2 linked regions of the Homo sapiens genome follow. The protein of the gene in region 2 purifies or fractionates together with the protein of the main gene of each other region. This does not show direct contact. Each region holds a gene or a part of one and is shown on either strand. Other genes may lie near its edges.

Region 1 (3,828 bases), on a different chromosome or scaffold from region 2:
ATGATCTACCCAGTATATTTCTAACCACATCTTGGGACAAATAAAAGTGCTATTGCATAGCAGAAGTTTCATGACTTTTAATGGTTTTAAGGCAGAGACCATGTGAAATCAAATCACAAAAGAGCTGATAATGAAGTAATATCTACCACTCAACTTCTAGAATTAACTGCTGAGGAAAATGTCAAACTGCAAAAAAATCAGAATAAGTGCACCTGGAAACGAAATATATTCTTTTAGAGTTTAGTGGGACATTATCCCACTAAAAAAGGCACCTGCAGACATTCTTTTATTTTCAAGGAATTTTAAAAGTTTTAACAGTTTTAACTGTTGTAAACACTGGTGCACTTACAACACAGAATTGACAACTGATTACATTTTTTTCATATATTTTTTGAGGCTTTAAAAAAAATAGGGAGCCAGGGGCAGTGGTTCACGCCTGTATTCCCAACACTCTGGGAGGCTGAGGTGGGTGGATCACTTGAGGTCAGGAGTTTGAGACCAGCCTGACCAACATGGTGAAACCCCGTCTCTACTAAATACAAAAAAAATTAGCTGGGCATGGTGGTGGGCACCTGTAATCCCAGCTACTCAGGAGGCTGAGACAGGAGAATCGCTTGAACCCGGGAGGCAGAGGTTGTAGTGAGCCAAGATCACACCACTGCACTCCAGCCTAGGCAACAGAGCGAGACTTCATCTCAAAAAATAAAAATTAAAACAAAACAAAACAAAACCCAGAATTCTTTGCCCTCCATTGCCATTCTTTTCCCCTTGCCCTCTTTGCTGAGCAATGATTAAACCTCTTTCCTTTATAAATTACACAGTCTCAGGTATTTTTTTTTTTTTTTTTTGAGACGTAGTCTCGCTGTTTTCGCCCAGGCCGGACTGCAGTGGCGCTATCTCGGCTCACTGCAAGCTCCGCCTCCCGGGTTCACACCATTCTCCTGCCTCAGCCTCCCAAGTAGCTGGGACTACAGGCGCCCGCCACTGCGCCCAGCTAATTTTTTTTATTTTTAGTAGAGACGGGGTTTCACCTTGTTAGCCAGGATGGTCTTGATCTCCTGACCTCGTGATCCATCCGCCTCGGCCTCCCAAAGTGCTGGGATTACAGGCGTGAGCCACTGCGCCCATCCAGTCTCAGGTATTTTTTGTAACAACATAAAATAAACTAACACAACTTATAACAACCTAATTATATACAGTGAACCCAGAACGGTAATATTTAAAATGTGCTAACTTTATAATTCCTTCAAAACAATCTGTTTTGTGGTAAAAATGAGCATCAATATGGTAGTAAATATTTTTAAACTGTGACTATGTAAAGCCTCAGAGCAAAGAATATAAAAGTAAACCTCACCAATAAAATTATTGTTGCATATAAAGATGTGCTTGTATCAGTCTGTCATTGATACAATGTTTGCTTTTACCTCCAGGGAGAAATTCCATGATTAGATAAAGATTCCTCTTATCCTGAAAACTGTAAAACATCTTCACCACCCAGGCACCATCTGCTTCTACCAAAATATCTCTTTCTGCTCGGATATGGGCCACCTAGATGAATATATTTTTGAAAAAAATAATTGTAAATACATCACACATTTGTTAAACTCATCTCTTACACTTATCCATCCATAACAGTTAATGAAGGAAAGATGGAGTTTCAGAAGATTTGATACATGTATGAATGTTCGTATTCTCATCAAATATGGAGAACCTCAAGAAATAGTTTATTTTAGCTTATATCTTTAGGTCTGAAAAGGTGAGGTCAACAGGTATATTACGTGAAGCTGAGGCCTCTGAGGTAGAGCAAGAATCAGTCTAACAACTTTTTAACCAGAATCTCTACCCAGCCTAGGATCCTGGCTTTGTCACATAAATTTAGGGCACTAGTGTGATTTTTAAAGTTAAAAGTAGTAAGCAGGGCCGGGCACAGTGGCTCACGCCTGTAATCCCAGCACTTTGGGAGGCCAGGGCAGGTGGATCACGAGGTCAGGAGATTGAGACCATCCTGGCTAAAACGGTGAAACCCCGTCTCTACTAAACATACAAAAAATTAGCCAGGCATGGTGGCACACACCAGTAGTCCCGGCTACTCAGGAGGCTGAGGCAGGAGAATCGCTTGAACCCGGGAGGCGGAGGTTGCAGTGAGCCGAGATTGCGTCACTGCACTCCAGCTTGGTGACAGAACGAGACTCCATCTCAAAAAAAAAAAGAGTAAGCAATGCCCTGTAAATTGGTACAGCAAACCTAAGCTTGGCTAAAAATAGCAAACTATTTTTAATTGTTAAACAAAGGTCCCAGCTTGATCATTATTTGGTGTTTTTTAAAGAAATAGTAACAATTATAGTAACTTTATGTTATATTATTGTTATAATATAAAACCTCTACCATATCTATAAATGTTAGCTAAAGCAAATTTGTGTAACTTTTGGGGATTTTGCCACTGATTTCTCGGACACATAATTACTAGAGATACTATCATGTGAAAATGTTATAGACTGGAAAATTTTATAAACTGGATAATTTATGGGGTTGGTATAACTGGTCAGTTTGCAGATGCTTTTGCATTAATATATTTATACACTTTTTCCAAAGATTAATAAGATTTGATTTATGCTTTTGCTATTTTCATTGTGCAACGTTAAAAACTCTGGTCCAAAGCACATGAGAACATACATTTGTAAACCTTTCTATGATAATAAAATATGATCTGCTTAAAGTGTCATATTTGGAATTACTCCTAGTGCAGTAAATATTCTGAGATCAAAGCGTAAGAGTTGAGGAGTAAGAACTTGTCTTCTGGCATGAAAATACTTTATAATTTCTATGGATCTGTTTCATTAAGTGAAAAGTGGTAGCAAGAGTGCCTACCTATTACCTTTCATGAAGCAATTTAAGGTGGTAAGGAAAAGCCCTAAACTTTGGTGTTGCATCTGGTGTGTAAGGAAAACAACTACAACATAAACATGGCTTGATTATTTTTAAATGGTTTAAAGCCAAATTACAGGATCCCTTTCCAAAACAGGATCCAAAGGTTGGAAAGTATGACCTATAGTAATCTGGTAGAACAACAGTGAGGAGATCAGTTGGTATTTAATTTTGTGGGGGTGGTTTGCATTAAAATAAATGTGATAAAAGTTAAAATATTGATGTATTAGAATTGAGTAGAAAAAAGCTTTCTAAAACAAAATCCAGTGGTAACAAATGCAAATTAATTTATACAGGGGTAAAAAACAACCCCAAAATGCAAAGGCAACTAGACGTTAGGCTACGGAGAGATTTCCGCCCCCCACCTCCCCACAGGAAAGAGCAGTGGTCCAGAGGCTCCTTAACTTCCCACAAAATATTGTAGACCAAGGGCTGTCCAGTACAGATGTAACACAAGTCATGTATGTAATTTTTAAATTTTCTAGAAGCCACATACAGAATGAAATTATTTTTAATAATACAGTTTATGTAACCTAATATATCCGAATATTATCACCTTAGTATGTAATCAATATAAAAATCATTGAAATATTTTATTTATTTATTTATTTATTTTTGCACCAAGCCTTATTTGCTGGATATCCCAATTTGTGCCCAGTAGCCACATGTGGCTGGCTGGTATCTACACTACAGCTGGAACTAACTGCTTCCTTCTGTCCTTCCTATTATACCCTAGTAGGACTAATCCCATTATGGCTAAGTTAGATTCCTGTTGCCCTCCCTGTCTCTGAGGCTATGCATCTTTACCCACGTCCTTATTGCCATCATTATCTTTCTTTTTTCTTCCTTTTTGTGGAGAATGGGGTCTTGCTATATTCCCATCATTATCTATAGTTCTCTAAT
Region 2 (3,828 bases):
GAATTTGGAGACAAATTTTGTGGGGATGGGCCTTACATTCCTAGCTTGTGAAGTAGCACCTATACCAAGCATTCCTATATTGCTGGTCTGTGTGTGGTATATACCTATGTTCTGAATTTCTCCTGCCGTTGCCCTTATAGGCTGACTTGGCAATACTTTGATTAGATATTAGATACAAAAATATTTTCATTAGTGTCTCTTTCCATTACTTACTGTCCCCTCTTCTTTCTCAGGAGCAAACCATGTTTCAAATGGTATGCTCTGCCCGTTTGATTCACTCTTTTTCTGTTGTGACCCTCCCTACAGCAGGGTGGTCTAACCTGCCTTAATGACACTAGCTGCAACAGTGAGAGAAACATGAGGATTTAGGCTCAGGCTGCTTTCTCTGAGACGCATGTTTTAGGTCAAAGGCCAGAGATTTGGTTTTTGGTCAGAAGTATGTAAATGACTAATATGGTTTGGCTGTGTGTCCCTACCCACATCTCACCTTAAATTATAATAATCCCCACGTGTCAAGGGCAGGACCAGGTGGAGATAATTCAGTCATGGGGGAGGTTTCTGCCATGCTGTTCTCCTAATAGGGAGTAAGTTCTCACGAGATCTGATGGTTTTATAAGGGTTCCCCCTTCGCTCTCATTCTTTCTCCTGCAGCCTCGTAAAGAGGTGCATTCCGTCATGATTGTTAGTTTCCTGAGGCTTCCCCAGCCATGCCAAACTGTAAGTCAATTAAACCTCTTTTCTTTATAAATTACCCAGTCTCGGGTATGTCTACATAGCAGCGTTGAGAATGGACTAATACAATGATGCAGCACCATCCCATATGATCTTGAGTGGTGCTTTTGGATTGTGGTAGAGGGTGCTGTATCCTTATGAAGGTGAATTTCTTTTAACAGAGCAGTGCACACTCAGAATTTTGGTGAGTTCAGGTTGTAATTTCAAGTTTTGCAGATGCGCCTAGTTCCGTTCCTAGCATGTATAGCTCCTGTAAAGTCTCTGGTTAGTCTTTTCACAGAAGGCTTGAGAGTATATTACTCTGTGTAAGAGGTTTTATCATAGTTATAGATTTATGTTGTTACTCTAATAAATATTGAAGAGATTAGTGCAGATGAATGAGTATAATCCTGGAAATGTATGATTATAACATTATATTTAGGAGGAATCTATTATGTAGGTGATGTATCACATGCATAGCCCCAGAATTTACTGAGGCTCTGTTTTAAAGATGATTGACCTCAAAGTGAAGTACCTCCTAAAAAGGGGGCATCTAGTGGCATTTACACTGATAGAGGGAGATGGAAACAAAGTCTTTTGCACTCTGTGCAAAAGATTGTTTAAGAAGCTGTAAGGCATGCATATAGAGCCAAGGTAGTTTCTTAATATTGAATCTCACACCATAAGTCTTCCTGTAGGGCAAGACCCATACAAGGAACTGGTTCTTGCCATCTAAGATTTGATATCTTTGGAATGAAGAGATCTAAATCCAAATCACTGGTCTGACAACGTGAAGTAGTCTAGGATGGATCTTCACTTGGCTGACTGCTATATTAGCTCCTCACATACTGCCCCATTACACACTGTTCCTAAGGCTTTGCGGGTATTCCTAGCATGAAAGAGCCTAGAGCTGGTACTCTCATTTTCCAGCTCTGCTCTTCTCCAGGCTGTCACAGTTCCTGCCTCCTCACTTGTTCTTCACACTGAGGTGATAAGTGACAAGAGGTTTATTTTCACAAAGTGAAGACTTATTGGGTCTAGTAAGTCTCTTTCCGGTGTTAGTGACCTGCTCTGTTCCCGGGCTGGCACTAACTAACTGACTGATAGATGACTCTGACAGGTCCCAGTATAACCCCTTCATTAACCTGCTGGGCGGGTGTCATGTTTGCTTGTAACTTTTGCCACTGGGTATCTAGAGTCCTGAAAGTGTAAGACTTAGGATGGAAATGATTTGTTGGTTGTGCACAGGGCCATGGTAAGCCCTGGGTGGCCAGAGACATCAGGCTGAAAGAGCTAGGGTAAGAGTGATTGGGCATCTGGTTCAGGCCTTCTTGAGAGGGAATACTTTGGGAAAGGATGTTTAGTGATTTTCCCTTCTTTGCCTGGGTCTGTCCTTGCAGAAGGAGTTTAGTTTTTGCTATTCCTGACCACCACTATCAGCAGCATCATCGTGTAATGAATGTTTGACTCTTTGGCAGCTCAGCTGGTGTCATTCCTGAGCAGGTGCAAAGAAGACAGTGGTTAGAAGGCCTCAGGAAGCACCTAAATATCTATGATTTTAGTTGAGAGACCTACTATCTATTTAATCTTTCTTTTCATAATATTTGGGTAACTGAAGGTTATCTATATTTCAAATATAATTCAAATACACACTAAATTTCTAAAAGCCACCCTCCAGAATATGAACAGATTAACCTCTCATTAAACATCCAGGTAGAAACAAGGCCTCTTGGCTGGGTGTGGTTGTGCATGCCTGTAATCCCAGCACTTTGGGAGGCTGAGGCGGGCAGATTGCTTGAGTTCAGGAGTTTGAGACTACCCTGGGCAACATGGCAAGACCCTCATCTCTACAAATATATGAAAATTAGCTGAGTGTGGTGTGGCATGTGCCTGTAGTCCCAGCTACTCAGGAGGCTGAGATGACAGGAAGATTGGAGCCCAGGAGGTCAAGGCTGCAGTGAGCCATGTTGATGAAAGGCCTCTTATATGGAAAATCATCTGGTCAAAAGTTCCCATTTTAAAAATGAGGGAGCCATCTCCCAGAGAAGTGAAATGAATCACTCTAGGATTCATGGCTGGTTATTGACAGAGCTAGGAGGTAAAGTGGTTTCTTGACTTCCAGATTTTCTATGATGCCACAATGCGCTACCAACCAACTAGTTAATGAGGATTGGAGCCGCGATTATATGGCTGGGGTTCTCCAGTATGGCATCCCCACTTCCTCCCCTCCAGGTACATGGTAAGCAGAGAGCATCACACCTGAGCAGCATTCTTACTCAGCTCAACAGCAATATCTGAGCCTGAGTTTCCCATTCCAATCACCAGGATGCGTTTTCCCTCAAATCCATCTGGATGCTTGTATTGGCGGCTATGGAAATATTGGCCTTTGAACCTCTCCATACCTTCAGGGGGAAGAAGAGAGAAGTCTGTGAGCTCCAGAGCAACTATGTCAAGCTAATTTCAATAAAACTGCATTGCCAGCTTTTCCTTTCTGGAGTTAATAATTTGTTTTGCCTCTTCTCTATAGGAGTAAAGCACATAAGAAAGTTTAGGTACCAGACCAGGTGGGGCCTGTAATCCCAGCCCTTTGGGAGGCCTAGGCAGGTTGATTGAGCCCAGGAGTTTGAGACCAGCCTGAGCAGCATAGTGAAACCCTGTATCTACAAAAAATACAAAAATTAGCTGGGCATGGTTGTGCATGCCTGTGGTCCCAGCTACTCGGGTGACTGAGGTGGGAAGATTGCTTGAGCTTGGGAAGTAAAGAATGCAGTGACCCCTGATTGAGTCACTGCACTCCAGTCTGGGTGACAGAGTGAGACTGTCACAACACCAAAACAAAACAAAAAACAAACAAAAAAACAGGACCAAAGGGGTTGATTTTTTATTTCAGAGGCTGCAGCTTACGGCTGCAGTTTGTCTCTATCAGAGACAAATAAATGGTGATGAACACAGCAGGACCAGATACTGTCTTCTGCCTGCCTATTATATACTATTTTGGACTATATAATGACATTTGACCCTTTAATATCACATATTAGGCAAGGTGTGGTGGCTCACACCTGTAATCCCAGCACTTTGGGAGGCCAAGGCGGGCGGATCAACTGAGGTCAGGAATTT

Evidence for each region.
Region 1: the proteins of FMO2 (region 2) and STK38L purify together in Homo sapiens (affinity purification with mass spectrometry; one large-scale study listed by BioGRID and IntAct). This does not show direct contact.

Annotation. Positions count from the first base shown.
Region 1 is NC_000012.12:27,310,269-27,314,096, reverse strand, and holds part of STK38L (serine/threonine-protein kinase 38-like), read right to left. Parts: intron 1,549-3,828; coding exon 1,425-1,548; intron 1-1,424. UniProt on the Homo sapiens protein: Involved in the regulation of structural processes in differentiating and mature neuronal cells.
Region 2 is NC_000001.11:171,198,631-171,202,458, reverse strand, and holds part of FMO2 (flavin-containing monooxygenase 2), read right to left. Parts: intron 3,114-3,828; coding exon 2,971-3,113; intron 1-2,970. UniProt on the Homo sapiens protein: Catalyzes the oxidative metabolism of numerous xenobiotics, including mainly therapeutic drugs and insecticides that contain a soft nucleophile, most commonly nitrogen and sulfur and participates to their bioactivation.